3 linked regions of the Homo sapiens genome follow. The protein of the gene in region 2 interacts with the protein of the main gene of each other region in a biochemical or structural test. Each region holds a gene or a part of one and is shown on either strand. Other genes may lie near its edges.

What was found. Proteins that work in one complex are often made in the same cells at the same time.
Region 1: the proteins of EIF2S1 (region 2) and OTUD3 form a complex in vitro, tested with the Homo sapiens proteins (one study listed by BioGRID).
Region 3: of the proteins of EIF2S1 (region 2) and EIF2AK3, one has a biochemical effect on the other in vitro, tested with the Homo sapiens proteins (one study listed by BioGRID).

What each region holds. Positions count from the first base shown.
Region 1 is NC_000001.11:19,899,395-19,906,394, reverse strand, and holds part of OTUD3 (OTU domain-containing protein 3), read right to left. Parts: intron 2,129-7,000; coding exon 1,997-2,128; intron 1,505-1,996; coding exon 1,408-1,504; intron 1-1,407.
Region 2 is NC_000014.9:67,369,914-67,377,746, reverse strand, and holds part of EIF2S1 (eukaryotic translation initiation factor 2 subunit 1), read right to left. Parts: intron 3,280-7,833; coding exon 3,200-3,279; intron 1,309-3,199; coding exon 1,157-1,308; intron 1-1,156. UniProt on the Homo sapiens protein: Member of the eIF2 complex that functions in the early steps of protein synthesis by forming a ternary complex with GTP and initiator tRNA. This complex binds to a 40S ribosomal subunit, followed by mRNA binding to form a 43S pre-initiation complex (43S PIC).
Region 3 is NC_000002.12:88,624,465-88,632,338, forward strand, and holds the start of EIF2AK3 (eukaryotic translation initiation factor 2-alpha kinase 3 isoform 1 precursor), read right to left. Parts: upstream 3,001-7,874; 5' UTR 2,811-3,000; coding exon 2,503-2,810; intron 466-2,502; exon of another isoform or gene 282-465; intron 1-281. UniProt on the Homo sapiens protein: Metabolic-stress sensing protein kinase that phosphorylates the alpha subunit of eukaryotic translation initiation factor 2 (EIF2S1/eIF-2-alpha) in response to various stress, such as unfolded protein response (UPR).

The DNA of each region.
Region 1 (7,000 bases), on a different chromosome or scaffold from region 2:
GAGAGTTACACAGGGTGATGACTGTATTAATGATTCCAAAATTACCTGGGTCCCTACTTCAGTCATAAGGGAAGTAAGTTTCCTTGAGACAAATTCGAATGTCAAGACAGTGGGAAACATAGGAAGAAAAAGTTGGTAAAAGTTGGAAGATAAATTCTAAAATAACCCACTGACCAGCCTTTTGATCAGCTTCCAACCAGCAGAGTGCTTTTTAGATAAATTATGTCTTAACATGAATTTTTATGGGAAAATCTTTCATTTGCACCCAAAACCCAGAAAAGAAACAGGCTCTAAAGCTGTGCTGTCCAATGTATTAGCCACCAGCTATATGTGGCCATTTACATTTAAATTAAAATTAAACAACATTTAAAACGTAGCTCTCCAGTCTCATTGCTCATGTGGCAGGTACACACTATACTGAACAGCACAGATCACTGGAGGGTGCTGTTTAAAGTCACAAAGACCAAGTTACTTACAGATTTCTAAAAGTACAGCCAATACATAGTGGATAATAAAATACCTCATCACATGGAGCACTATGATGCCAGAAACAGTATCTGACACGTAACATCTGGCAATCAGTATTTATTGATATCATTTTAAATAAATGACTTGAGAAATTAATAAGATGTTACATCCTTTTCTCTTTTTTTTGAGAGGGAGTCTCGCTCTGTTGCCCAGGCTGGAGTGCAATGGTGCGATCTTAGCTCACTGTAACCACCACCTCCCAGGTTCAAGCAATTCTCCTGCCTCAGCCTCCTGAGTAGCTGGGATTACAGGCACCCGCCACCACACCCAGCTAATTTTTGTATTTTTAGTAGAGACGGGGTTTCACCATGTTCGTCAGGCTGGTCTCAAACTCCTGACCTCGTGATCCACCTGCCTCAGCCTCCCAAAGTGCTGGGATTACAGGTGTGAGCCACCACACCCAGCCGTTACATCTCTTTTCTTTCCTCTGAGTCACAAAATTATACTTGGTTCAAATTAAAAAAAAAAAATCAAAATTATCACAAGCTAATACAAATCTAAATATTTCCACCAGAAAAACAAGGTATTTCTCTCTCCATTTTATTTTGGTTATCATTTTGGTCTTCTAAGGCCATCTTATTTCTAAACAGGCTAATTCTTCCCTGATGCGTCCCCCAGCACCCTGTACTCCCAACCCCATTATGTACTATCGCACCAGTTTATCTGTCTCCACTATCCACCCTCTACCCCTGAACTATACTCCCCCTGAAGCAGAGACAGGACCTAGTAAAAAATGTCTACGTACAGAACGTGCTCAATAAACAACTCCTAAATGAATGACAGAACAGTTACCACCTGTGACTTGGTTAAAAAATAAATATTTGGAAAATTACCAACACAACCATTTTGAAGATCTATAAATATTAGTCATGGACTTACTATTTCTCTTCCCTTGGTTCATCCGAAGCACGGCAATTATTGCAGATTCAATATTATAATTTTCAGCTTCCAGGTTCTGGACTATTAAATTAAAATCCTATCCAAGAAACAAACAAACAAAAAAACCACTTCAAAACTCTGGGTATATTTTTCTGCCTAGCTCTACTTCAATAATCATAAACATAAAGATGTAATAGTGAGAATTAACACAAGGTTTCAGGACCTTTTCCATTTAGAAAAATGTCGATTTCCAATAAGGTTGGTCCCTTGAAATAACCGTCTAATGTACACTTATAAATGAATTCCCTCTATAAAACTGCATTTGTACTACTGTAAACACTAGTCAGGAAAAATTAAATCCACATACTTCCTAAGACCTTTGAGCAGTACTGGGTGAAGTCTAGCAAACAACAGGGAAATTAATAAACAGCTCTCATTAAGCCACATACACTAATCAAACTACAAATCTCATGGGCCTATTTTGGCCCACAAGGTGCTGATATGCTAGAGAGGTGCTACGAAACTAAGAAGTAAGCTAGGCACAGCAATGCTTGCTTCTAAATCATTCCTGCAAGACAGAAATACTAACTGAACATCCAGTTGCATTACAAACTTTCTGGACAGCATCCTCTACTTCATCTCTCAGGTCGTCTTCAGAGTCCATTCCCTTTGTCTTGATCTTTTCTCTTTTATTTGATTCATCTTGATGAAGCATCTGAAACTAAAGGAAACAAGTAATAATCAGGGAACTATGTTGAGAATCAAACTATGTTCAGAATCTTTAACACAAGACACTCTAATCTGGAAAAATTCATATATATAGGGGAAAACCTTCTAGAAACAACCTTAAGAGAACAGCAATGACTAGGCTCCATTTTATCCACTCATTGTACTTTGAGTCACAACAGAGGAATTGAAAAGAAAGGCCCAAAAGACAGAATAACTGCTCAGTAAGAAAGGCATTCGCACTCCCATGTCTAAATGCCAACACTGGCAAATGACTGCTGCCTCTGACAGCACACAGTCACCTCAGCTGATTTTCAGAGCCGTGAGCTTAACAGAAAACGATCCTCTATACTCGCACCTGGTGAACTTTTGCACAAAAACGGTGCTGGTCTTGAAGAAACCTACATACAACTTCCCTCTGGTTCCCAAGCCTTATTTGATCATCAGCACGCTTAGAGGTACTGAAGCTCCCGTCCCAGCTGGACAGTCACGGATGAGCATGACTCATCTAACCTCAGGTACATACCACCACACCCAGGGAAACTTGTCAATCCAAATCCTAAAGCCACAAACAACAGTTCACTTGGGATCCATGAGACCTTTACAACCTGGGCCTTAAATCAGAAAAGCTAAAATCATCCCTCTGTAGATGCTCAACCACCTTCTTCTTCTGCTTCCCATTGATGCAGGGAGATAGGTAAATGGGCAAAGACAGTTCTATTTTTTGAATGTAAACATATAGTGGACTCCAGCAATGTACAGTATATTCCTCAGAATGTTAATACAAAACATTCTATTATAAAATTAAACCCTAAGAATTTGACAAAGTTACAGGAGTCTTTGAGCCGGTAGTTTCACAGTTTTGAAATTTAGCCAAAGGAAATAATATCAAATAGAGAAAAGATTTATGGGCCTGGTGCAGTGGCTCACACCTGTAATCCCAGCACTTTGGGAGGCTGATGGGGGTGGGTCACTTGACCTCAGGAGTTCAAAACCAGCCTGGGCAACAAAGTGACATCCCGTCTCTACAAAAAAAATACAAAAGAATTATTTGGACATGGTGGCATGCACCTGTAGTCCCAGCTATTCAGGAGGCTGAGCTGGGAGGATGGCTTGAGCCCAGGAGGTGGAGGTTGCAGTGAGCCGAGATCACACCACTGCATTCCAGCCTGGACAACAGAGCTAGACCTTGTCTCAAAAAAAAAAAAAAAAAAAAAAAAAGAGAAAAGATTCAGGTAAAAGTGCTAACAGTGTTACTTATAGTGGTGAATAACTGGAAACCACCCAAAGGCTTTATAGTATGGATATGGTTAAATAACCACTGTAAATCCACAGAATGATGTCTTCATTCCCACTAAAGGAAGAAACACAATAATCACTCCCCCCATTATTACTTAACAATATTTTGGAGGTAACAGCCAAAGTATTTAGCCAAAATAAATTTTAAGTATAAAATTAAAAAGAAAAAAGTAATCTGTCTTTGTAGATGATATAATTCTGTAACTGAAACAAGAGAATCAACAAAAAACTACTGCAAACCAAAAAAATTACAGCAAATCATATACCTGGGTAAGAATCTAGCATCTAGAATATATTAAAAAACTCTTACAACTCAAAAAGGCAGAACCCAATTAAAAAATAGGCAAAAGACTTGAATAGACATTTTTCCAAAGATATACAAATGGCCGAAAACCACATGAAAAGATGTTCAATGTCATTAGCTATTAAGAAAATGCAATTCAAAACTTTAAGATACTGGCCGGGCGTGGTGGCTCATGCCTGTAATCCCAGCACTTTGGGAGGCCGAGGTGGGTGGATCACGAGGTCAGGAGATCGAGACCATCCTGGCTAACACGATGAAACCCTGTCTCCACTAAAAACACAAAAATTTAGCTGGGCGTGGCGGTGGGTCCCTGTAGTCCCAGCTACTCGGGAGGCTGAGGCAGAAGAATGGCGTGAACCCGGGAGGCGGAGCTTGCCAGTGAGCCACGATCGTGCCGCTGCACTCCAGCCTGGGCGACAGAGCAAGACTCCGTCTCGAAAAAAAACTTTAAGATACTAACTAGGATGACCATTTAAGAAAAAAACATTTGTCAGAGAGGATGAAGAGAAAGCAGAGCCTTCATACATTACCGGTGGCAAGTAAAACAGTGCAGCTGCTGTGGAAAACCGTTTGGCAGTTCCTCAAAATGTTAAATTTAGGTTTATCATATGACCCAGCAATTCCACTCCGAGGTATATCCAAAAAGACTGAAAATAGGTATTTGTAAAAATACTGTACACATATACTCACAGCAGCACTATTCTCAATAGCCAAAAGGTGGGAACAACCTAAATGCTCATTAACAGATGAATGGGTGCACAAAAAATCATCTCTCCAAACAATGGAATATTATTCAGCCATAAAAAAGAATGAAGTACTGATACATGCTACACCATGAATGACTCTCAAAAACATTATACTGAGGGAAAGAAGCCACAAAGAAAAAGTCACATATAATTCCATTTACATAAAATGTCCAGAATAGGCAAATTCATAGAGAAGAAGGGCAGATTGGTGACTGCTAGGGGAGAGGGGGAATTGGGAGTCACTGCTTAATGGATATGAGGTTTTCTTTTGGGGTGATGAAAATATTTTGGGACTAGACAGAAGAAGTGGTTGTACAACAAACACTGCAGATGTACTGAGTACCACTGGACTATATATTTTTAAATGATTAATTTTATGTTATGTGAATTTTGCCTTAACTTTTAAAAAAAGAGGGGTTCTGTGGGATACCTATGTAATTAACATCTTGTTATTAACAGCTCTCACAGACAAATGATAACCAACTAGAAAACATAAAAGATCTCTTTACAATAGACACAAAAAACACAAAACACCTCCTAAGAATAAACTCAACAAAAAGTGGGCAAGATCTATATGAAGAAAATGTTCCTGTGGATCACAAAGTCAATTAAATAATAAAAGACTCAACATCAAAAAGATGTCAGCTTTTCCTTAAATTACTCTATTAATTTAATGAGATTCCAATTTTAAAAAACTCAATAGGGCCGGGCACGGTGGCTCACGCCTGTAACCCCAGCACTTTGGGAGACCAAGTTAAGCAGATCACTTGAGGTCAGGAGTTCAAGACCAGCCTGGCCAACACGGTGAAACCCCGTCTCTACTAAAAATACAAACATTAGCCAAGGGTAGTGGCGAGCGCCTGTAATCCCAGCTACTCGGGAGGCTGAGGCAGGAGAATCGCTTGAACCCGGGAGGCAGAGGTTGCACCACTGCACTCCAGCCTGGGCAACAGGGCAACAGAGCAAGACTCTGTCTCAAAAAAAAAAAAAAAAAAACAAAAAAAAAAACCTCAATAGGATTTCCTTTGAACTAGACACATTGATTCTAACATTCATTTTGTTTTTTTTAAAAAAGACAACATATAAGGAAACTTATAAAAAGAAAATTAATTATGAGTGAAAAATCCTACCAGATTTTAAAATATACCAACTAAAACAATGAGGCATCAACATGTGAACAGGGAGATCAGTGGACCAGAACCAAATGTCTAGGAATAGACCCAAATACATATGGGAATTTAGTATATGGAAAGAAAGTGGCATTTTAAATCAGTGGAGAAAAGATGTATAATTAATCAATGGTTTGGGTACAACTAGGTAATCACAAGGGAAATATAAAGTTGGATCCATAGCCTCCTACCCTTATTTCAATATAAATTTCAGATGAAGCCAAGATTTAATTTTTTTTTTAAGTCAAACTATGAGCTGGGTGCAGTAGCTTACATCTGTAATCTCAACACTTTGGGTGGTCGAGGCAGGAGGGTTGCTTGAGTCCAGGAGTTCGAGACCAGCCCGGGCAACAAAGTGAGACCCTGTCTCTACAAAAAATAAAAAATTAGCCAGGCATAGTGGTACACAGCTGTGGTCCCAGCTACTCAGGAGGATCGCTTGAGCCTGGGAGGTTGAGGCTGCAGTGAAACATGATCATAGCACTGCACTCCAGCCTGGGCGACAGAGTGAGACCCAGTCTCAAAAAATAAATAAATAAATAAAGTGAAACTATGAAAGTACTATTCTAAACTATGGGAGAATTCTTTTTAACCTCAGAGTGGGAAAGACTTTCCCAGTTATGACCCAAAATCCAAAGGGCATATAAGAAAATCGTAACAAATTTAACTATGTAAAAATCTAAAATTCTTTCATAGCAAAGACCACAGGAGAAAGAACAAAAAGACAAATGACAGAGTGCGAAAAACTATTTGCAACTCATATCACAGACAGAGGCTAATTTCCCTAATACATAAAAAGCTCCCCAAAATCATTAAGACAACTTAATAGGAAAAAAATGGAGAAAGAAAATGAATACCATTTACAAAAAATAGAAATATGTCTTAAACACAGGAAAAGATGCATAAATAAGAGAAATGCAAATTAAAACTAGGTTAAGTAAACAATTTTTCCCCTAACAATGAAAAGGATTTAAAAATTTGGTAACACTATGTTGACGAAGTGCACCGTGCAGGAAAAGAGCCACATATTGCAGGTGGGAGTTTAAACCGGTGAAATCTTGTTAGAACGTAATTTGACAATTCACTTATCAACATCCTCTGATGTGGCAAGGACCTTCTAGGAATGTGTCCCACAGATACATGAGTGAAATGAGGTACATAAAAGGTACTGCACATTGCTTATAATAGCAAAGGGTTAGAAACCACCTAAAAGTCCATCAGTAAGTGACTGGTCAAAAATATTATAATGCATCTACAGAACAGAACACTACGCAGCCTTTAAAAAGGATACAGGAAGTTCCTTATGTACTACCATGAATTAAATCCCAAGACATGTTAAATTTAAAAAG
Region 2 (7,833 bases):
GTATAAATGGAAGAAACTAGAGATATTTTTATGCTGATGGAGTAAAAGCAATAAAGGGAAAGGTGACCCAAGAGAAAAAGTAACTAATAGAGATCTCTGAGCAGCAGCTGGGCATAGGTGGCAAGACTAGTTTGAGAGCAATTAGGACACAAATTCCAGTGACAGCAGCATAGGAAGAAATGACAGGTGGGACAGAGATATGTAAGTTTGTTGAGACAGTGGAAAAGTAGTTCTTGTGCAATGGTTTCTATTTTCTTTATAAAATAAAATAGGTAGTGAGCATACCAGCCAAGAGGCAGGGAGCAGGGATAGAGTGGTTTTCTGAGGAAGAACGTGGAAAAGCTCTAAAATAGCCACTACTGAAGAACTGACCAGGAGCAGAGAGAATGTGGAACAGCTGAGGCTGGAGACCATGAATATGCAGTGGACCAACCTGCAAGACTGATTTTTCCTAGTAGCACCCAGCAGTCTACAAGTACAGAGAAGGCAGGAACATTGATCCAAGGCTGGATGGATGGAAGGAAAAACAAGGCAAAAGCTCACAATAATGGCAACAAAGTCGTTAAAATGATGTATCATGGTGTGCCTATGTTGGATAAGAGAGAAAAGGCAGGAAATGGCGAAAAGACAGGGAGAAAAAAGGTTTGGAATCAGATCCTAACATACAGAATTAAGATGACAAATAATAGGACCAACTGGGAGCTAGATGAATAGGAGGCAGGGGCAAAAGAACAGAAAGTGTGAATTAAAGATTTTAGTGGCAGAGCAAATCCCGGTGATAGTAAGGCCCAGGCTAAGGCTACATGGAAGACTGGCTAAAGTGGTGTGGGCTGAAAGTCAAAGGAGAGTCAAAAGAGGTAGAGAAAACAAGAGGTTATAGTTTTTGGTGAGACATGCTCTTTAGTCCCATAGCCACTTAGGACAATAACTAGGAAAGGAAAATGTGTGAGATAAACCATATGGTTTATGAATCTACATAACTATGATACATAAAACTACACAGACTTGACCATATAGGATTGGCCCATTTACTGGCCAATACAAAATATTTTAATCTAAATTTGGCAAGTATTTTATACATGGATGCTATGCTGTTAAATATCAGGCCAAGAGTTGTGATATCAAGGTAGAAGGAGAGTCAAGAAGGTATTCTTACGAGACTGCATGCTTAAATGCATCATAGGCACCATATCCAGGTCTCTTGTACTTGTCATCAAAGACCCAGGCAGTCCTCTGGAATAGGCTTTCCAGCTGCTCATCCTTGGTGTATTCTAACACCTCAGCAACATGACGAAGAATGCTATAAACCTAGAAATAAAATGAAAAGCTCAACAATTCAAAGATAAGAGATTTATAAAAAATGTTTTTACATTTTAGTAAATAACATAATTTGGCTACAATAATTCCTTAACAATAAAAGATCTCCATAGGGAAATACTCACTTTAAGTGGGTATAAAAAGTAGAGATAGTATACAATTTAGGGTCCTAAGACCTGGATCAAGTCTTGACAGTAACACAGTATCTCTGAACTTGTTTCCTCCTCTGGAAAAAGAAGAAACTAGCATCTCTCCTTACTACAGAGTGCTCGCATAGATCAAATATATAGAAACCACACACTATAAATGGAAAACGGCTATACAAATACAAGTTGTTATTATTACTCCCTGAGGAGAGAATCACGATAAAAAAAATTTTTTTTCTGTCATCTTACCCACCTGCCAAACTTTTTCTTACCTCCTAAAATTAACAGGGTGTAGACAAAAAGTATTAAGGTCTTCATCATAGTTACACATAAAAATTGAGTGAGAAAAGGTACTGACACTGAATAACTCTTCCATTTTAACATCTCAATAAGATCTATTAACACACTCATTTTAACAATATCCTAAGGAGACAAAAAAATATGAAATTTTCCCAGAAAAGTGCTTCTCAAAAGTTAGTAGGACCTGAGAGTCTGTATTTCTAAAAAAACAGGTGATGTCAATGCTGCTAGTTTAGAGACTACATTCTAAGTGGTAAGGTCCTAGAGTTTATTAAGAAGATATTTTACTGACAGTGTTTTCAAATGTGTAAACCACACTGCATAACTGTAAATACATCAGTAAAACAAAGGAAATGATTTGGGTAACTGATGGCTTTTAGACCTTTATTTTCTCTCTTACTGGGATTAAGCAAGATTTTTTAAAATCTCTTCATTGAAACTTTTTTTTTTTTTTGATATTTTATCTTGAGGACAGAAACACTCATGGCAGAAAAGAACAGACACCAGAGAAGGGCAAAGAAAACAGAAGCAATACAAACAGTACCACTAAGAACTGAGGATAGGCTGGGCACACTGGCTTACGCCTGTAATCTCAAACATTCCGGGAGGCAGAGGCGAGAGGATCGCTTGAGCCCAGGAGGAGGTGGTTGCAGTAAGTTGAGATTGCGCCACTACACTCCAGTCTGGGAAAGACTTTGTGACACACACACACACACACACACACACACACACACACACACACACACACACAGAACTGAGGATGTAGAGGATGAAGGATAACTTAAACAGGACCTGAGAAAAGAGAAATACTGACAGAAGAAATTAAATGGCTATCTTTGCTTTGCTGCTGCTTACTGTGGATGACAAGCAGGAAGTAATAGCAAAAATAAGAATGCAAAAAGAAATAATCCTAACACGCTAGTGGAGGGGGAAAAAAACCAAAACTAGTAACAGGCCTCTGCCTTGCTTTCCTGGATTCACAGACATTTTATAAACCCCTGTTCATTCTTAACATATAACAGCTGGTTGTCTCCGTTACCCTCATCCCAGAACAGGGTTGAAAATCAAGAACTGTATTTTGGCCAAGTGCATTGGCTCACTTCTGTAATCCCAGCACTTTGGAGGGCTGAGGCTCAAGGATCACTTGAAGCTCAGGGTCTGAGACCAACCTGGACAAAATAGAAAGACCTCATTTCTATTTAAACAAACAAAAAAACCCCGTATTTTATGAGGCATTCCAACTGTAAACAAGTTAAAGCAGTTGAAGTCACCCACAGTTAATTTAACCTAAAACGGCTTCAAAACACTTCTAGTACTAATTTGAGAATATTAGATCATAAGCAATACTTTAAGGTAGTAGCAGTATGAAATTAAGATTTCAAATTATTTATTAAACACACAGATAGTGGACTAATTTGACTCAAAGATCAACTTACAGTTTTGGATTTTGTGAATTTGTCTTCACATTTGATTGCTTCCTCTGGAGAAACTCTTCTTTTTGACAAATCAATATATCCTGTACAAAAAAATTGTGAAAAAATCATCTCTGTCCAGATGCCACTGTACTATTGTAACCAGCTTTGAAGACCAAATTAAGTGTTTGATTGGCATACTTATAATTATTTCCTACTAAAATCCTATCAACAAAATACTGCATAAGTATTACAAGGCTGAGTATCCCTCATCAGAAATGCTTGGGACCAAAAGTGTTTTGGATTTCAGATTTTGGAATATTTGCAATGTATTTACTAGTTAGAGCATCCCGAATCTGAAAATCCAAAATCTGAAATGCTCCAATGAACATTTCCTTTGAGTGTCATGTTGGTGCTCAAAAGTTTCAGATTTTGGAGCATTTTGGATTTGGGGATAAGGGATACTCAATCTGTACAAGATGAGAGATTCTGAATTGTTTTCAGAAATAAATTTTTATTATCAGGTAATTATATATATTCCATTACCTTACTGGAGAGAACTAATAATTTTCAATTATCCAAATGAAAGGTAGTCAAATGCCTATCTTTCCCCTATTTCTTCCTTTTCCTTCTCCAGAATAGGAAAATTCACTAAGATGTTCATTTAGTTTAAGGAAAGAGGCTATCGTCACAGAAGACACACACACACACACACACACACACACACACTGAACAAATTAAAACTATCTAATCTACTGTATGACTACCATATACAAGTAACTATGTTAGGTGCTTAAACATCTTCTTGAACCCTCACAACAATCCTGCATGGTAGATTATCACTCTCTTTCCCACAGCGCCCCCCAGTCTTTTTAACCTGAAGAAACTAAAACCCATGAAAGGTTAAGTAACTTGTCAACGTCAAATAGCCAAAAATGGCTGAAACCTACAAACCTGTGCCTGGCAATGACTTCCAGTACAATGCTGAGTAACAGTGGTGAGAGTGAATGTCTTGTTCTCAATACTGGAGGACAGCATGTCTGTGGTGTTTTTCTAGACACTCTTTATCAGATTAGGAAATTCCCTTTTAGTTCTTGTTTGCTGACTTATTATGAATGGGTGACAAATTTTGTCAAATGCCCTTTCACATCTATTAAATTGGTTGTAGTTTTCCTCCTATATTCTGTTCATATACACTGATTTTATTTCAGATTCTGAGCATTCTTTTTCATTAAAAATTGTATGACTTACATATAGTAAAATTCACCACTTTTAGTGTTAAGTTCTTTGTGTTTAAAAAAAAGAACAGTCATTTAACCACCACCAAAATCAAGTTCCATCACCCCTGAAGCCACTAAAAACTGGACACAAGTTTCTCTGTGAACATAAATTTTCCTAGAAATGGCACAGCTGGGTTATATATTAAGTACATGTTAATTTTATCTGCCAAACTTTCCCAAAGTGAATGTGGCACTCTGCATTCCCATGAGCAATGTGGAGCAGTTAGAACTGCTCCATGTCTCTCAATTGATTTTTAAAAAGTCAATCTATTGATTGTGCAGTGGCATCTCACTGTGGTTTTTATTTGCATTTTCCTAATGACTAATGATGTTCAACATCTTTTCATGTGCATATTTGCTATCCAATTATCTTCTCTGGCAAAGTGTCTATTCAAAACTTTCGCTCCTTTAAAAATTGATGGTTTAGATACAGGGTTTTTTTGTTTGTTTTTTGTTTTTTTTTTTGAGATGGAGTCTTGCTCTGTCGCCAGGCTGGAGTGCAGTGGGGCAATCTCCGCTCACTGCAACCTCTGCCTCCTGGGTTCAAGTGATTCTCCTGCCTCAGCCTCTTGAGTAGCTGGGACTACAGGCACGCACCACTATGCCCGCTAATTTTTTATATTTTAGTAGAGACGGGGTTTCACCATGTTGGCCAGGATAGTCTCAATCTCCTGACCTCATGATCTGCCCACCTTGGCCTCCCAAAGTGCTGGGATAACAGGCGTGAGCCACCGCTCCCAGCCTAGATACAGGATTTTTTAGGTTGTTCAAGAGTTTTTAAAATATGCTGGTTTGTCTTTTTATTCTCTTTATAGTGTCTTTAAAGAACATAAGTTCTTAATTTTGATAAGGTCCAATTAATCAATTTTTCCTTTCATGGATAACGCTTTTAGTGTGCTATCTAAGAAATCTTTGCCTAATCCAAGGTCAGAAAGATTCCTGTTTTCTTCTAGAGGTACTTAGAAGTTTACATCTATGATTCATTTTAAGCTAACTTTTGTATAAGGTGAGGTGTTTGAATTGAGGTTCTTTTTTGCATATGGACATCCAGTTGTCCCAGCACCATTTGTTAAAAAGATAATTTTTTCTTTGATCAGCTGCCTTTGTACTTTTGTTAATTAACTGATCATATAAAAGCACACATAAATTTTTTAATTTTTTTTTTAAATAAAAAGAAGTGAGAGATAACAAAAGAGGTGAGGTCCTGCTATGTTGCCCAGGCTGGTCTCGAACTCCTGGGCTCAAGTGATCCCCCCACCTAGGCCTCCCAAAGTGCTGAGATTACAGGCCTCAGCCACCATGCCCAGCCAACATAAAGTTATGACTGTTAAACCAAACTGGCATTCCATACACTCCACTTGGTCATGCTTTATTATCCTTTTTATACATTGTTGGATTTGAAAAACATATTAATTGTTTTATCTATGCTAATCACATATTTGGTCAGTAATTTGCTTTTTTACAAAAACATGTCTTTGTTGGGTTTTCTTATCAGGGTTATGATGGCCTCATAAAATTAGTCATGCACTGCATAACATTTCAGTAAACAATAGATTGCATATATAGCAGCAGTGCTGTTAAGATTATAATACTGTATTTTTACTGTATCTTTTCTGTGTTTAGGTACACAAATATTTACCATTGTGTTACAACTACCTAATCAGTATAGTAACATGCTGTACAGGTTTGTAGCCTAGGAATAATAGAGTATACTAAACAACCTATGTGTGTATAGGCTATAAGGTCTATGTAAGCAGCACACTCTATGAAATTTGCATGATAAGACATTTTTCAGAATGTATCTTTGTCATTAAGCACCACATGACTGTATTTCGAAAGTGTTCCCGCCTCCTTAACTTTTTTTTTTTTGGTGGGAGACAGTCTTGCTCTGTTGCTCAGGCTGTAATACAGCAGTGTGATCACAGCTCACTACAGCCTCAAACTCCTGGGCTCAAGCCGTCCTCCCACCTCAGCCTCCCAAGTAGCTGGAACTACTTTACAGGTACACACCACCACACCCAGCTAATTTTTTAAAATTTTTATAGAGATGGGGTCTCCCTATATTGCCAGGCTGGTCTTGAAATCCTGACCTCAAGCGATCCTCCTGTCTCAGCATCCGAAATTGCTGGAATTATAAGTGTGAGCCACCGTGCCTGGCCTACCTCCTTAACTTTCTGAAATTTTATTATGACTCATCTTATTTCTGCCTTAAATGTCTGATACAACTCATCAATTTAACCATCTGGCCTAGAGTTTTCCTTTTTTTTGAGACAGGGTCTTAGTCACCCAGGCTGGAGTGTAGTGGCATGACCTCGGCTTACTGCAGACTTGTTCTCCTGGCCTCAAGCAATCCTCCAACCTCAGCTTCTCTAGTAGCTGGAACTGACTAGAGGTGCACAACACCATGCCTGGGTAATTTTTCTACTTTCTGTAGAGATGAGGTTTCGTCATGTTTCCAGGCTGGTCTTGAACTCCTGGGCTCAAGCAATCTGCCCACCTCAACCTCCCAAAGTGCTGGAATTACAGACATGAACCACTGTGCTGGTCAGGACCGAATTTTCTTGATGAAAAGATTTTTTACAATAAATTCAATTTCTCTAACATATAGGACACTCAAAATTTCTATTTTATATTGGTCAGTTTCAGTAAGTAAAATTTTGCAAGGAATTCACTAATTTCACCTGATTTGTTGAGATGATTGGCATAAAATTGGTAATGATATTCCCTTATTAGCCTTTTAATGTCTGTAGCATCTGCAGTGATAGCCCCATTCTCATTCCAGATTGGTAATTTGTGTTATTTCCTTTTCTTCATCAGCCTAACTAGGGGTTTATCAATTTTGCTCTTTTTTAAAAAAACAAAAAACAAGTTTTTAACTTTGATACTGTTCTCTGATTTTCTGGTACTCTATTTTCACCGATTATCTTATCCTTATTATTTCTTTTCTTCTACTTACTTTGTGTTGGGAGAAAGCCCCCTAAAATCTAGCCATAAACTGGCCCCAAGACTGGCCATAAACAAAATCTCTGCAGCACTGCGACATGTCCATAATGGTCCTAACGCCCAAGCTGGAAGGTTGTGGGTTTACAGGAATGAGGGCAAGGAACACCTGGCCCGCCCAGGGCAGAAAACTGCTTAAAGGCATTCTTAAGCCACAAACAAAAGCATGAGTGATCTGTGTCTTAAGGACGTGTTCCTGCTGCAATTAATTCGGCCCATCCCTTCATTTCCCATAAGGGATACTTTTAGTTAATTTAGTATCTATAGAAACAATGCTAATGACTGGTTTGCTGTTAATAAATATGTGGGTAAATCTCTGTTCGGGGCTCTCAGCTCTGAAGGCTGTGAGACCCCTGATTTCCCACTTCACACCCCTAT
Region 3 (7,874 bases), on a different chromosome or scaffold from region 2:
CTCTTTAAGTGTGCTCATCGCCAAATCTTTCTTCCCAGTCCTCCTCCTGTACCTCCAACCTAGCCAGCTGTATTTCTGTCTCCTTTGCTGGCTCATCTTCCTCCCTAAAATAAAAGGCATTTCCTGAGGTTTTCTCATGAGCTTTCCCTTTCCCACAGCTTCACCTATTCATATTTATGCTGCCTTCTCACTGGCTCTAGTCACTCATTTCCACCCGCCTACCTCCCTCTGGATGTCCTGCCTGCACCTCCGAGTCACATGTCCAACACCAAACCCCTTACCTTTTCTTCCCTGCTCCCTTAAACCTCTTTTGTCAACTTCTGGCCACGCAGTCTCAATCTCTGGACAAGGGTACCAAGAAAGGAAGAATGCATTCACTTGCCAGGAACCTAGATTTTGCATCAAATATCTCAACTCTGTCCCCTCTGTCCTATACCACTTTACACTAAACCTCTCATCTGAACTGCTATAACACTCTCCTTTTGGTATTCTTAACTCAAGTTTTCAGTACACACTATTGCTAGAGAAACATTCCTTAGGTGTAATTTTGATCAAGCCTGGCACTCAGGATACTCTACCCAACATTTCTCAAACTTTAACGTGCATGTGAATCACACGGTGATCTTGTTAAAATGCAGATACTCTCATTCAGGGAGTGTGGGGTGGTGCCCCACTCCGGAGTTTTAACATACTCCCAAGTGACAATGATGCTATTAGCATCAGACTATATGCATATACAGTCGGCTCTAACCTATTTTTTCTATCCTCATCTACTTCTCCCTGCCTAGCATACATATGTGCATGTCTATATCGCTTACGTACACACACACACACACACACACACACACACACACACACACACAGACATACACAGAGACAAAATGTTTTCCAAACATAATCTCCGGCCTCTGTGCCTCTTGCTGTTTCCTCAAGTCCAGTGACTTTCCATTACAATTTTACCCATTTTTCAGGAACCAACTCATTCTGCCACAACCTTCTCTTATCTTCTTACCTACCCTCACTCCCATACCTCACCTAGTAGAACACCACAAAAACCTTGGGACATCCCTGACACTGGCACTGTTTCTAGTCTGTAATGTTGTTATAGGTCTTCTCGTTTCATCCGTACTGTTAGACTGCACACTCTCCTGGAAGGCAGGAACTACCTGCCTAACCTCTGCCACCCAGGGCATCCTTGGGCTCTTGTTAACCAGTAAGTACCTGTTGAAGTGGATTTGAATTCTAAGAAAAAGAAAACGTCTCAACTCTACTTCATGTAATTCATTTTGAGCAGGAGCTTCAGAAATTTATGATAAACAAAAACACTCTTCCAGGAAAACTGACTCATTAGCAAACCTAAGAAAACTTTGTTTTATATATATATATTTACAAATGTTTATATATTCAAATGGTGCCTAGAGAATTTTAGTACTTATCCTATTTATAGTAGTCTCCAGATATATAGATCAAAGTTCTAATATTAATTTAAAATTAAATCTAACTTGTTACGATCTAGTAATGACTATAAGTCTAAAATATGTTCCAATCCAGAGCCCAGCCTTCCCTAGTTTAATTTACTTAATGCTCCCTTTAGCACTCCATTTATAAAATGGGACATCACTTTCTCCACGGGTGTGATAAGATTGGCTGTCCCCCAAATTTACTGTTAACATGCCTTACATTGTGTCTAGACTTTGAAAAGTGCTTTAAAACAATCACCTTGAAGTAACATTTTTTGAATGCTGAGAAACTCAAAGAAAACCCTATATTAAATGTTTATACAGTAAACCCCTTATTCAAGAACCTAACCATGGCTCTTAGGTTCAAGAACCAATATTCAAGAATCTGACTATAGCTCTTAAACTTTAGCGTGCAAGAATTATCCGGCGTGCTTGTTAAACACGCAGATGCCAGGCTCTTACCCAGGGAATGTCTCATTCAGTAAAACTGGGGTAGGGCCTAGAAAACTGTAGATTTCACCAGCAACCCCAGGTGATTCGGATGCAGGTGTTCCGCAGATCTCAATTAGACACTGATCTCAATCCTTGTCCGGGGGCACTACAGAGTTGTGTTTGAAAGAAAATGCAGACGTCTTTTGCTAAAGTCCTTTCTCAAAACAGCTGTCACGCCAGCACAGACAGGAGGTGATGTGCGTAAGGAAAAAGAGGGAAAGGTTCCTTGGAAGAGAATCAATGCCCGAAAACAATGAAAGAGGGGAAGTGGCGTTTCTTTGCAACCCTGGAATTCCATTCTCCCGCACCTGCGAGGATGCTGCTCTGACCCGTCGGCCAGCACCAGGCCCTCGGGAGCCGAGCCCAGGCAGGTCGCTGGCCGGGGGATGGGAGGGCGTCGTGGCCCCGCGCTCGTCCCCAGGTCGCCAGCTGCCCTCCGCAGCCGAGGGAAGACGCCCGCCCGGGTCCCGGATCTCCGCCCCCCTACACCGCATCCTCCGCGGCTCGCGCGCGTAAACAAGTTGCCTCCCCCGGGTCGGCAGCCCCTCACCTGCCGCGCGGTCGCAACTCTGTCTCATCGTCTGGTTCCGGACCCCGAGGCTCCTGCTCTCCCGCGGCTGCCGGCAGCGCCTCAGCGTCCTCCACAGTCACCTCGGCCGCAGCCACGGCGCCCGCCGCCGGTACTCGCGTCGCTGAGGTGGGAGCAGCGGCCGCCCCGAGGCCGAACGCCGCCTCCGCCGTCGGCGCTGGGAGGCCACGGGCGCGCCCCGCGGCCACCGTCCTTGCCGCGAGCCCCAGCAGCAGCAGCAGCAGCAGCAGCGCCCGTACCAGCAGCCCCGGGCTGATGGCGCGCTCCATCAGCGTCCCGCCCCGCGCGCAGGCATGGAGGCGCAGCCACTGACGCCTGCCTCTCCCGCCGCTTGGAGCTCCCAAGAAGGCAAGGACGTGCTAGGGACCCTACTGCCGCCCCGACGGCCTGGACAGCCAGCCGTGTTCCCCTGGCCACGTCTCAGCCCGGCCTCTGCCGCTGCCACCTGAGTGACAGCCTATCTCGGACATCGCCCATTGAGCAAACTTTCCGCGCGTTTGCTCTCTCATTGGCTGCGGCCGCTGCCACTCCATGTTCCCAGGCTGGCCTTGTTGGGGAAGGTGGACTTTCCCTGGTGGTCAACATCGCACCTACCAATCAAATCGTAATTTCGTCGTTCGAGGCCCGTCCCTCTTCCGGACGCAATTACCAATGAGAAATGCCCTTCCCCGACGTCTTTTTACCTGATTGGTGCGCTCATCAGTTCCCGGAATACCTTTCCTACAACAGATTGGCCATCGCGGTGGTTGGCCTCGCCCCACAAAGCGAGGCGCTGGAGAAGACTTGAAGATCATTGGTGGAAGTGGATGTCCCTCAAAGGTCTGCGCTAACTGCCTCTTGATTGGTTGGAAGCGGCACTTACTACGTGGCGGATTCTGACTGTGAAGAGGACTGTCCCAAGTGAAGAGTGGGAGGCAAGTGCCTTGTGACCGGGAGGAGGTCGACCTTAAAGGAGCTGGTATTGTAGCTCTTCTAAAGCCTAGTCTACTTAGGAAGGCAAAAGCGAAGCAGCAAGAAGTGGCCACAGAAGCCGTGTGGTCCCTAGAAGTAGAAGGGTAAGGAGGATGCAGGAGATGGTCCTACTTGTGGCCGCAACGGGGCTCAGAAGTCCGCTTGTTAGAGATGGCAGTGACCTGTGACAATCCAGTCTGCCCGACACGCCTCCCGCCTCCTTAGGAACGGGAAGGAGCCCCGGCCCAGTGCACTGACGTAGTTAGCCTAAGATCACGTAGCTGGTTGGTCACAGAATCATGACTTTAATTCATGTCTTCTGACTCTGACCTGGCACGCTTTGTACCTCACCAAAGACAGTGATGAAATTGCAAAAGGGCAGAGTGGAGAAGACTGGAATGTTCAGCCAAGGCATTTGAACTTTTAATGCTGCAAGTCAAGACTTCCTGAAGATTTTTGAGCAGATGAGTGAAGTGATAAGAAAATGCATCTTCAGCAGTGACAGCATCAACGAGGAGGAGACTGGCCGGGAGGCTATTACCCGCATCAAAACCAGTGAACATTAAAAAAAATTTTTTTTTTAGAGAGAGGGTCTTGCTCTTTTGCCCAGGCTGGAGTGCAGTGGCTTGACCATAGTTCTCTATAACCTTGAATTCCTGCGTTCAAGCGATCTTCCTTCCTCAGCTTCCGGAGTAGCTGGGACTACAGATGCGTGCCACCATGCCAGGCCAATTTTTAATTTTGTTTTGTAAAGATGGGGTTTCTGTGTTGCCCAGGTTGGTCTCAAATTCCTGGCCTCAAGCCATCCTCCCGCCTCAGCCTCCCAAAGTGCTGCAATTTACGGGCATTAGCCACCGCACCTGGTCCAAAACCGGTGAAGATTTGTTAAGGTGTTGGCAATATGGGTATACCTAGATTATCCTTCATCTGCTAAAAACATGCTCTAATCTCTCCCCAGCCCAAAACAAACAAGAAACCTCTCTTCCCCTTCCAGCTCCTACCACGTGTCTTTGCTCCTCTGTATGGCAAAACTCAAGTGTTCAAAATTCCTTATCTTCAATTCCTCTTCTCCCATTCCCAAGTACACTACAGTCAGGCATTCACACCACCAAAACTGCTCTCGCTGAGGCCACCAGTGCTGTATTCAAAGGATAATCTTTGTTTTATCAGCTGTATTTGATCCAGCAACTCAAGTTTTTCCTGTCTAGAACACCTTTCACCGGTCTTCTTGCTTCTCCATAGTGCTGGTCGTAACCCTCAAAAGGTCCCCCAGTTCACTCAGGATAAAAGTCAAGTCCTTAAAATAGACTACAGGGTGCTACAGCATCTGGTTCCTATGGCTTTTCTGATCTCATTTCATACTGTCTTTGCTCACTCCACTGGGCCAATCAAGACCCACCTGGGGGGTTTTCCTTTGTTGTTTTGCCTGCCTAGGAAACTTCCCAGGTATATGAGTTTGCTAGAGTTGCCCTAACAAATACCACAGACCAGGTGGCCTGAACAAAACTAGTTTATTTTCTCGAAGTTCTGGAGGCTAGAAGTCCAAGATCAAGGTGGGATTCTGAGGCCTCTCTCCTTGGCTTGCCGATGACAGCCCTCTTACTTCCTCTTCCCTCTGATGTCTCTTCCTATTCTTCTAACACCAGTCAGATTGGAGTGTGGGGCTACCTTTAACAGCCTCATTTTAACTTAATCACTGCTTTAAAGATCTTATCTCCAAATACAGTATAGTTATATTCTGAAGCACTAAAGGTTGGGACTTCAACATGTAAATTTTGGAGGGACACAATTTAGCACATAATACCCAGGTACCCACAAGATATGTTCCCTCACTTTATTTGAGGCTTTGCTAATCCCAGTGAAGTCCCTCCTCACTACCTTATTTAAAATTAAAACCTCCACCACCTTCCTTCCTTTATTTCTCTCCTGCTTTATTTCTGCTTAGCCGATACATACATTACAAATATGTAAATACTGTAATTTACATATTTGTTTTGTTTATTGTCTGCTGTGTTTCCTTCCACTTGCATGTAAATTCTGTGAAGATTTGCTCATTGATGTATTCGAAGACATAAAACAGTGCAAAGTGTTTAGCAAGCATTTAATAAATGTTTGTTGAATGAATGAATGAATGAATGAATACCTGAGGACAGAAGGAAAGAGACAACTGGAAAGGAAGAGACTGCAGTTGCTGTAGACAGAGGGGGTTGATTACGAGAGCAAGATTCCAGAGTATCTGGAGGAAAAGGGGCAGCTCTGCCTTCCATGTTGAAAGTAGAGCGTAGGAGGTATTCCTAGAGAGTAAGTTATTTTGAAAAGTAGAGAAAATAGATGAGCGAACTCAAACCAATTGACCATTATCTACTCAACAAAATAGGAGATAAAATTGCCCACCTAAAAGGGATTATACTAGTTGGTATGAGGAAGGTGTCAGAAAATTAACATAAGATGAAAAATGATTGTTAACTACCTGTTTGAAATTAGTGTATATATTTTAGTGGGCCTGGTCTTCATGGTTTTGTAATTTTTTCAAAAAATGATCATGGCATGAACAAGGCTATTAATCTGAACTAATGAATTAGGAGTCTACTTGCCACCTGTAAATACTGTGGAAGTTTTATTTATTCATTTAACATTCAGGGATTCCACATGACCACCTGCAAATAATGAGAATAAAGATATGAACAAAATAGATGTGGTTCCCGCCCTTCTGAAGGTTAACACCTATCTAGTTAGGGAGACAGACATTAACAATCACACATATATTATTAAAACTGAGATAAGTGCTATGATGAAAAAGGCGCGGGCAGAAGAGCACAGTGGTGGAAAATGCCAGTAAGGAGAGTCAAGCTTTATACTTGGGAACAAAACACAAATTTTCCATTTTGGAAAAAAAGCCTGAGTCGAAGTGTGCTGACTGGGAAAATAAATTAAGGAGAGAAAAGAGAGTCTACCTGCTTTAGGACAGCATGGAGCTTCACAGTGACTTTGTGGGAACTCTGGAACCTGGGTGCCTCAGGGAAATGTAAGAAAGTGGGGACCGGGCATGAGAGCTGGCCCGTGAGGCTGGGCCAGGAAAAGAAGCTGGTGCTCAGGTACCCTGAGCCAGGGTTGCCCAAAACAACCAAGATTCTACAACTGAGTGTGGCCCAAAAAATCAGCAAAATAGGTCTGAGATTTAGAAACAGTGAGTTCAATCCCTTAACAGAGAGAGACTGCATCTGTTGAAATGATATTTGATTGTGAATAACAAAAACGTTGCCATATAGTGGGTGAAGCAAGAAGTGGGTTTTTTTTTTTTACTGACACCACAGCTCTACAGTGATGTTTTATTTAAACTTATGCTCCTTCTGTTTCTCCATGCTTCATGGGTGACTTTGTTCCTTTTGCCTGTCGTCTCACTGTTTTGGGATGGCAACTCCAGTATCATTTCTTTATTATAGGTAGGACAAAGAGGAATGACAAAAGGCATGTAACCACCTGAATTTGCCCCTATCAAAGAGCTCTCCAGGAAGCACCACCAAGGAATTTTCACTGACATTTCCCAGGCCAGACCATGCTGCTGCTAAGCAAAATGAGGATTCTGCTAGTGAGGATGAAAGGAAGAATGTGTAATCAGTTTTCTTGAAGTATAATACATGTACAATAAACTGAACCTATTGGAAATATACATTTGGATGAGTTTTGACAGATGTATATACCACAGTCAAGATACAGAACATTCCCATCACTCCAAGAGATTCTTTGTGTCCCTTTGTGGTCAATCCCTCCTACACGAGGCCCCTAGGTAACCGCTGATCTGTTTTCCATCACAATAGATTAGTCTGCATATTCTAGCATCTTTAATAAATGCAGTCATACAGTATGTACTTTTGTGTCTTACTTTTTTCACTCCATATAATGTTTTTAAATTTATTCATGTTGTTGAATGTAGCAATACTTAGTTCCTTTTTACTGCTGAGTAGTACTCTGCTTTATATGTTCCATGTTTCTTTATCCATTTACTTGTTGGAGTACATTTGGTATATTTTCAATTTTTGGCGATTACACATAAAGCTACTATGAGAACATTTATGTACGTACAGGTCTTTTTGTAGATGTAGGTTTTTATTTCTCTTGGGTAAATACCTAGATGTGGAATAACTCGCTCATATAGTAGATGGATGTTTAACTTTATAAGAATCTGCCAAGCATTTTCACAAAGTGATGTACCATTTTATACCCCCACCAGTGGTGCACGAGAGTTCAAGTTGTTCTATATCCTCACCAACATTTGGTAATTGTCTTTTTAATTCTAACTATTCTAGTAGGTATGTGATGCCATTTCATTGTAGCTTTGGTTTGCATATCCCTGACGACTAGTGATTTTGAACATCTTTTAA